Homo sapiens: one gene and its partner. The protein of the gene in region 1 purifies or fractionates together with the protein of each later gene. This does not show direct contact. Each region holds a gene or a part of one and is shown on either strand. Other genes may lie near its edges.

Region 1 (5,298 bases):
GACAGGCCTTTGGATGAGGAAGTCCCTTCCCCCAGTACCATCCCCACTGCCCTCAGGAAGGAGGCTGAGTGCCCAGCAAAGTGGACCTGGTCACAGTTCTGAGAATTCCCAAGAGCCACTGAGATCAGCTTGTCTAAATAAAGTCAGTCTTTCTCTTCTTAGGGAGTCAGAACTCAAAAATATCAAAATAATGACCTCTGTTTGCAAAACGTGCTGCAGTTCACAGCACATGATCTTTGTCCATTAGCTCTTAGGCAGATCATGAACATATCCAGAACACATGGAGGAGCAAAAGGCATGGGCTTGGGGTCAGACAGAGCTGGGTACAAGCCCCGACTCCACCCCTTGCCAACTGTGTGACTTTAGGCAAATTGCACACCCTCTCTGAAGCTTCAGCTCTTTGTCCACAGAATGAATGACCGCTCCCTACTCTCTTCATGGTGAAAATGATGAATCAAGCATGCAGAACACTCAGCATAGGACCAAGCACATACACTTGGAGCTCAGAATGTCATAATTAATAAACAATTTTCTTCCAATTTAAAGATGAGAACACTGAGGCTCAAGGGGAAGTCTGGCTAAACACCTGGGTGCCCACTGTCTCCATTTGGATTTGCATCATCAGCTGCATCTTTGTAAAGAATGAGGATTCCTTGACTTCTTAAGGCTGTGGTTACTGCACTCTAGGGAAGCATGCCAGGAACCCCCAGTGTTAACTGAAGTAACAGACCACACTTCTCTTGTGCCCACTTGGGCAGGATTTTCACAGACAATCTCATTCAACATGCATCTCTGAGCTCCAACTGTCACCTAAGCCTTATGGTGAGGTCTAGCGGTGCAGTAGTGAATAAAACTGGCAGTGTCCCTGTCCCGTTAGAGTTTATGTTTTAGGAAGATAAGAGCAGTAAATCAGTATACAGCAGGATGTCAGGAAGTGCTCTGAAGGCCAATGAAGCAGGGGCAGACAGAGTGATGAGGCTGTTCTCCAGCCACGGGAGCCCAGGGGACCCATTGTGGGAGGTTCCATTTGAGCAGATACCTGAAGAGGTTGAGTGGTACTGGATGGGGAACCATGAAGGTGGAAGGAAGCGTGAGGCACAGTCCTGAGAATAAAGCCACATGTTGGAAGGAGAAGAACGCCAGTGTGACGGGGGCAGAGGGGTGGGGTTGGGCTGTGGATAGGAGATAAAGTTGCAGAGGTAGGCAGGCCAGATCAAGTAAGGCCTTGGTAAGGGGTTGAGTTTTATTTGGGGCAATGGAGGGCTCCGAGCTTGGGGGGTGACCTGTGATGGAATGCACCCAGCACACCGGGGGCCTCGCTTGGACAGTGCTCTTTAAAACTGTGACATGAGGAGACACTGAAGACGGGTGTCATTGCCATTACCAGTCTGTCTCCCCTCTAGGCTGAACTCCTCCTGGGCAACTTTGTTATCTGTCTCCCCTCTAGGCTGAACTCCTCCTGGGCAACTTTGTTATGACCCTGGTCAGCCCAACTTAGCCTGGAGTAGGAGTTTTGCAAATCTTTATCAGGAAAACAAAGAGAAGAAGAGGAAGAAAGAAAGGAAAAGAGGGTGGATAGAAAAGGGGAAAGAGGGGAAGAAAAGAGAGGAGGGAGGAAGGCAGAGAAGAAAGAAGAGAGAAAAGACATGAATCACAGAGCACCAGCACGCATCAGAGGAAATAATGACGTTCTCTTCAATGCTTCTCTCTTATGGCTTGGGCTCGGCTAAACTGAAAGATTTCAGGTTGAGGTCCCTTCTCTGAGCCACAGCCTGGAGCCCCCTGCACTGCGTACATGCAGAAACATCCAGAGAGAGGACCAGCCTGTGGTCCCTCATGCACTGGGGCTGGGGGTGACCCATCTTGTCCCCAGCAGTCCCCAGCAGGGAGGGTCTTCCCAGAGCAGGCTGCCCAGTGAGGGCTGAGCTCCCTCTGGCAGGAGGCATTCAAGCCACATGGAGGTAGGACTTATACCCTTTTGCACAACCTCAAAGGTTCCTCCCCACTCTGAATCTGTTAGCAGAACAATGGAGGAGTTGAGACTTGAACTGGATCAAAGAAAAACAATGTGCTGTGTTGGCTGGGTTGCAGCTCAGATATTTGGATCAGTGAATGCAAGGTACCCCAGTTGATGGAGGGGAGCTTGCTCTGCCAGCCTTGGTCCTTTAGATTCAAGAGGCAGAAAGCACATTTGGGGGCACCTCCTTTGTACCTGGCACTTCACTAGGCTGTTTCTGTGATCTTCCAGACAATCCTCTGTGTGAGATGGAGGCTGTTGTCCCTGTGAGGCAGATGGGGAAAGCAAGGTTCAGGGCGTGGCGCCACTGAGTCCTGGGAGCTTGGTTCCTAGGGCATTTTCTAGCTTGGGGATGGGGGGGTGCAACATTATTGGTGAACTTTCACCCCATCCATCGGTCAACCCCAGATGCTGCAGATACACCACCGCTACCACCGGAGTGAGCTATCAGCTGCCACTGACTTCCCAAACTTCCCTGATGGCCAGAGTCCCCTGGAGTGCTGATTAAAATGTGGAAGTCATTGTTATGCAGTCAAGGCCACATGCTTGGGGAAGCCAGGTTCAAGTGTGCATTGAGACCCTGGGCTGCTGCTTATGTGTGGAGCATGTTGAGGGGCTGTGACACTGTCCTGGCAGGTTTGTTGTGAGGATTAAATAAGGTAATGGCTTCAGTGCCACCTGAGCCTTTACTGGCATTTATTTATCAGGCCTTCCATAGATGTGCTTCTCTGTTTCTTCCCGCTCATAGTCCCTTAAGAGTATGTGAACAATCCCAGTTGAATTATGCCTTCTTCCCAACAGAAACAAAGAAGAGAAAGTGGAATATTTCTGTTAAAAAAAAAAATCCCTGCAGATGCTGTAGGTACAGGGGTCAGAGAGGTGTGGCCCTGACCCATGCCCCTAGAGAGCCCAGTGTCCCCCACACACACTTCCCGGGCTTGGGAGCCCTGCTCCTCTCCAGACGTTCCCCAGCAGAAGGACACTTCGTTGTCAGGAAATGAAGCAGTGGAAAGGAGAAAGCCAGCCTGGCCTCTCTGGTGTCCTGTTAGTGTGCGGCATCCTAGGGAGGCACCAGGAAAGACTCCCCACTCCTCAGAAGCCTAGAGCGGACTTGGCCATTTGAGAACGCTCACTGATATATAATAATGTTTAGGCGATTCAAACCTGACACAATACTCATGCTGCTGCCAAGGTTGGGGCAGCTTCCTGGGACTGCTGACATGGCTGTGCTGCCCTGGTGCCCTGGGGAACGCCTGCTTCCACCAGGCAAATAGGAAGGAGTGGCCGGCAGCCCCAGGGAAGCCGGAGCTGGAGCATTCTTGAACCAAGTTGCAGATGTAATGGTTGAGACGTCCCGGTCTTTACCTGGACCTTGGAGATTTAGTCAGGTTGCCTTGTGTAATCCTGATGCTGCTCTTTTCTTGTTAAAACAATCTTAAAAGTCCTCAGGCAGAACAAAGAGCAGATGCCTAAATGGCTGTACTTTTGATCCTGGTTTCCCTTAGGAGGTGCTCAAAAAGCATGAGCGTTTATTTATTTCGTCTCTTTTGGAAGAATGTTTGGGTTTAATGTGAAGTGTATTTAATGATTGCATTTAAAAACTGATTGCATAAATAGAGGGCTGTGCAAATACAGGAGGGGCTGCCTTGATGCAGGGCTTGGACCCAACCCAAGCCATCCTGAGCACTTAATGAAGGTGTCAGTGACATTTGTTCATTTGTGCATGCAGAGGCAGTAGAGGGCAGGGGGAGCAAACAGGAGCTTTGGAGTCCAGCAGGCCCGAATGCCTCCCTGTCTGCCCCTATTTCTTTGCTGTTGCTTTTTGTTGTTGTTGTTGTTTGCTACGGGATATTGACAATCTCAACCTTAATTCCTCACCTGTGCACTGAGGATTGCAAAGGGCGCCCTCATCAGTTTCATGTGAGGATTACACGAAAGGAGGGAAGCAAAGCGGGGGAGGAGGATGGTCCTGAAAGTGTGGATCGGTGGGCGTTTGCTCCTCCAGCCCTGGGTGGGAGACCCTCAGGAGCACGAGCGAGAACTTCACAGCCTGTGGTCTCTCCTTCCCTCACAGAAGTGGTCGACCAGAAGGCCGTGTATTTCTTCAACCTGACTTCCATGCAAGACTCGGAAATGATCCTTACGGCCACTTTCCACTTCTACTCAGAGCCGCCTCGGTGGCCTCGAGCGCTCGAGGTGCTATGCAAGCCGCGGGCCAAGAACGCTTCAGGCCGCCCGCTGCCCCTGGGCCCGCCCACACGCCAGCACCTGCTCTTCCGCAGCCTCTCGCAGAACACGGCCACACAGGGGCTACTCCGCGGGGCCATGGCCCTGGCGCCCCCACCGCGCGGCCTGTGGCAGGCCAAGGACATCTCCCCCATCGTCAAGGCGGCCCGCCGGGATGGCGAGCTGCTCCTCTCCGCCCAGCTGGATTCTGAGGAGAGGGACCCGGGGGTGCCCCGGCCCAGCCCCTATGCGCCCTACATCCTAGTCTATGCCAACGATCTGGCCATCTCGGAGCCCAACAGCGTGGCAGTGACGCTGCAGAGATACGACCCCTTCCCTGCCGGAGACCCCGAGCCCCGCGCAGCCCCCAACAACTCAGCGGACCCCCGCGTGCGCCGAGCCGCGCAGGCCACTGGGCCCCTCCAGGACAACGAGCTGCCGGGGCTGGATGAGAGGCCGCCGCGCGCCCACGCACAGCACTTCCACAAGCACCAGCTGTGGCCCAGCCCCTTCCGGGCGCTGAAACCCCGGCCAGGGCGCAAAGACCGCAGGAAGAAGGGCCAGGAGGTGTTCATGGCCGCCTCGCAGGTGCTGGACTTTGACGAGAAGACGATGCAGAAAGCCCGGAGGAAGCAGTGGGATGAGCCGAGGGTGTGCTCCCGGAGGTACCTGAAGGTGGACTTCGCAGACATCGGCTGGAATGAATGGATAATCTCACCGAAATCTTTTGATGCCTACTACTGCGCGGGAGCATGTGAGTTCCCCATGCCTAAGGTAGGGTTTCTTCCGCCTTTTGCCAAATTCTAAGGCTCAGCTCTGCCGCTACCGTCAAGTTCCTCAGCCTGCAGGACTTCTGTTTCCCCATCTGCAAAATGGGAATAACAGTACTTCCTATCTATTCCAGGCAGGAAATAGGTAGACATAGGTCACCAAGTGGCAGCCCGTAGGGTAGTTGCCGCCCACATATGTGTGAGTTTGGCTGTGTTTTTTGAAGTATTGGCTTGGTTGAATTGGGACTTTAAAATGAGAACATTCTTTTGAAAAGCAGGAGAATC
Region 2 (3,500 bases), on another chromosome or scaffold:
GGTCCATCAGTTTGCGAAGAAGGTGTGGCATGAGGCATGGCTGCCACTCACACTAGCCCATGGAGGGCCTGGGTCCTGAGCGCCCCCTCCCTCATTTGCTCTGCTCTGAGTACAGCTTCCCAGCTCACCATCAGATCTATTCTGAGCTTGTGCATTTGGCCTAGGCAAGACTGGCTGGCTGCTTGGGGCAGAGGGAGGGGCCCTGGGGACAAAAGGAGCTGGGTACAGGGGTTGCTCTAGCAGGCACAGCACAGACCCCGGAGAAAGCCCACAACAATAGCATTTCCTCTCCTCCCTGGTTCCAGGCCTTTAAGAAGTGGCACCAACGCCTGGCAGCCAGGAGCCCAAGGAGAGGAGCTGCCAGTAGCCCAAGACCCTGGAGCAAGCCAGGCCCCAAGGGCCCCGAGAGTGGACAGGAAGCCGCCAGAGCACCGCGGGGTTGGGGGCTTGGGGCAGAGCATGGGGCCCAGCTGCAGCTGTGACTTGTTCTCATAGAATAAAAAACAGAACTGAACTTAGCCTTCCCAGGGAAGGAACCATGCCCCACACATCCAGGGAGTGATGACAGAGGGGACAGCTTGAAGAGCTCTGAAGGACAATAAAACCCACTCCTCAGTCCTAGCTGCTGCTTTCAGTCTCTCCTAGCGGCTGCCCCTCTGCCCCAGCCAGTGAGGCCAGGAAGGGAGTAAAGAGGACATCCCACAATTGCGTCCACCCCCTTGGCCATCAGGCTGCTCTTCCACTACACGAAACAGCCCATCTGCACCTGCCAGTCACTGCCCCCAGGCCCTGGGGCTTGCAGGTGACTCGTGGGGAGCCAGGCCAGGCAGATAACCTCTGGGACAGGACGAGGGGATGAGGAAGGCAGCTGGCAGGACAAGGGCCTACCTGAAAAATACACCAGGAAGCTGGGCTGCTGCACAGGCCCAGGCAGATCTGGGGCCCCTGTGCTGGCAAATCTCATCTTAGCCTCTGACAGGGAACGGGGCAGCATCAGGCCTCCACAGCCAGGCAAAAGGGGAAGGCCACGAGCCCCACCAAGCACAAGGGTTCAGACTGCCTTCAACCCTTAAGGGGCACTTTTTCTCTCAAGGCTCAGAATAGACAACTGTGCCAAAAAGCAGCATGGTAGGTGTCAGCCCAATGCCCATCCAGGGGGCTGGTGCCATGGACGGCTAAGTGGGCAGGCAGGGCAGTGGTGTGCCCCTTCAGTCACAAGTAGGTGGGGCCCAGCTGCCCACCTCTAGGAGGTGGAAGGGTACAGCACTTTGCCACATCTCTTCTACGATGCCACCAGTGCCTGATGCCCTTGCGTGTTTTGCCTGTACTGCACGGGCTCCAAGTGTAAGTTCACTGGGAGTCCCAGGCTGGCTCTGGAGGCTGCCTTGGTTCGAGGGCTTAGTTGGCAACAACCACTCTCCTCGCCTTCTCAGGAGGTGCCACCCACTGTGGTCCTCTGCAGGACGCAAGTGCTCCCCACCAAAAGAGCACAGACTCCTGGCTAGAGCAGAGAGTACTAGGTTCCCATGTGGGGCCGACTCAGGTCCAGGAAGAGCCTGGAAGCCTCACTCCAGTCTAGCTGCCATTGTCAGGTGGGGGAGTGGAGGCCGGGGTGGGAGAGACACGAAGGAGAGTGGAGTTCCCAAGAGAAGCAGCACTGTGGAGGAGGAAGGCGGGACAGGAGTGGCTCCAACGCAGGGCGTCAGGACGCAGGGTCATGGAGCCTCCGTTTCTCTCGCATTCTGGGTGGGCCTGTTGAGAAGCTCCAATGTGTCTTCCACCACCTGCCAGAGGCAGTTGTCCAGTGGGAAGTCATTGTCCACCAGGTTGACCAGGAAGTAGTTGTCGTGGATGTACTGGATGATGGTGCGGGACGGGGACTCCTCCTCATACAGCTTTCCCCACCGCTCAATCCACAGGGCAAAGGCCTCGTCCTACACACACATACCCCCGCACACACGCACACATGCACACACACACAGAGGCAAGATTAACAGGGCTCTCCAAGGGCTCTGCTCAACAGGACATTTCCCGGAATAGAACAAGGCCCACTGCCAGTATCACTTCCCACCCCTGCCCAGAAATAAACACCCTGCATCAGCAGTGACATGGGTGAGTCAGAGCTGGGTGTGCCCTGAAGGCTGGGTCCAGTGTGGCCTTCAGCACACGCTTGGGACTTGGTCCCAATCCCTCCCCACGGTTTTCCAGGTGGGCGGGGCAAGCTTGCCCCCGGCTCCTTTACCTTCCAGAACATGAAGCTGACGGGATCCACTACGGTGGGCTGGATGATCTCTCGCCCAGGGAAGATGCCCCAAGTGACAGCATTCGGCTGCAGTTCAGGGGCATTGGTGATGTTTTCACCCTGAGGGGATGTGGGGTGGGGGTAAGACCTGGGCCAAGAACAACTGGAGTCCCACTGCCTGGACAGCCTTGACTCAATGAGGCTGTCTGGGCTCAATACCCTCTGCCTGCGCCTCCACTCCCGGCCTCCACTCTCCCTGCGCCTCCACTCCCCTCTCCCTGTGCCTCCGCTCCTGGCCTCCTCTGCCTGCATCTGTGAATGATATCTCTCCCCACACAAGCCTGAACCTAGAGGCGTCCTGGCCACTTCCCCTCTCCTCCTTGAGCACCCCCTGCTCACTCTCTGATCCATTCCCTCTTGTCTAGCCCACCTCCAGGAGTGTGTTTGGCTTGGGTCACTCCAGGGGTCTCTTCACTGGCCTCCCCGGCTCTAGCCGTCCCCAATCTCTCTCATCCGTATGACTATCCACTGTGATTTGCCTAAAATAAAGCAGGAACCAAGCCACCCCACTGCTGGAGAAAGGCTTCCCTTGCATTGAGGGAAAACTCAAATTCCAGCAGGACAACCATGATCTCTGCGGGCCTGGCCCCTGCTTAACACTCCCGCCTCCTCCTGCTCATGTTCCCCGTTTCCCCAGATGGTGCAGCTCACTGCCTCTGCCTGTCCTCTGCCCTGTCCCAGGAATACCCTTCTCTCCTGTTGGCCAACTCCTCTTTGTCCTCAGTGATTCCCACAGATGACCCTCTGAGAAGCCTTCCCTGGCCTCCCAGGTGAGATATCCCTCCTCTGGACCCGACAGCATCCTCTCCTGAACTTGATTTTCCCACTTACACTGGCTGGTGGTCACACATTGATCTGCCTCCCTCACTCTAGGCTGGGAGCTCCTTAAGAGCAGGGCCCCAGTTCTGCCTGTATCTCTCTGTCTTGCACAATGCCTAGCCCAGGCTAGGTGCTGGGTGTTTGCTCAACGAAGGGCCTGGTACTCTGTGGGAACCCTGGGGCCTGGCCTACCTTCACATTGACAAGGTGGTAATTAACCCGGAGCTCGTACTTCTTCAGCACTTGCAGAAGTGCTTCCGCTGTCTCGCGGGAAGTGAAAAACTCTAAGTAGGCCTGTGGGAGAGACAGGTGCCTGTCACCAACCCCAGCCCTGCCAGACGCCCTTTCGCAGACACCTAAGGTATCAGGACTACTGGCA

Evidence for each region. The genes of interacting proteins can lie anywhere in the genome.
Region 2: the proteins of GDF10 (region 1) and MTHFR purify together in Homo sapiens (affinity purification with mass spectrometry; one large-scale study listed by BioGRID and IntAct). This does not show direct contact.

The regions. Positions count from the first base shown.
Region 1 is NC_000010.11:47,305,705-47,311,002, forward strand, and holds part of GDF10 (growth/differentiation factor 10 preproprotein), read left to right. Parts: intron 1-4,091; coding exon 4,092-5,017; intron 5,018-5,298. UniProt on the Homo sapiens protein: Growth factor involved in osteogenesis and adipogenesis. Plays an inhibitory role in the process of osteoblast differentiation via SMAD2/3 pathway. Plays an inhibitory role in the process of adipogenesis.
Region 2 is NC_000001.11:11,788,965-11,792,464, forward strand, and holds part of MTHFR (methylenetetrahydrofolate reductase (NADPH)), read right to left. Parts: intron 3,416-3,500; coding exon 3,314-3,415; intron 2,363-3,313; coding exon 2,243-2,362; intron 1,935-2,242; coding exon 1,716-1,934; coding exon of another isoform or gene 1,576-1,715; 3' UTR 496-1,575; coding exon of another isoform or gene 306-495; 3' UTR 80-305; coding exon of another isoform or gene 1-79. Other genes in the region: uncharacterized protein C1orf167, read left to right, coding at 1-79. UniProt on the Homo sapiens protein: Catalyzes the conversion of 5,10-methylenetetrahydrofolate to 5-methyltetrahydrofolate, a cosubstrate for homocysteine remethylation to methionine. Represents a key regulatory connection between the folate and methionine cycles.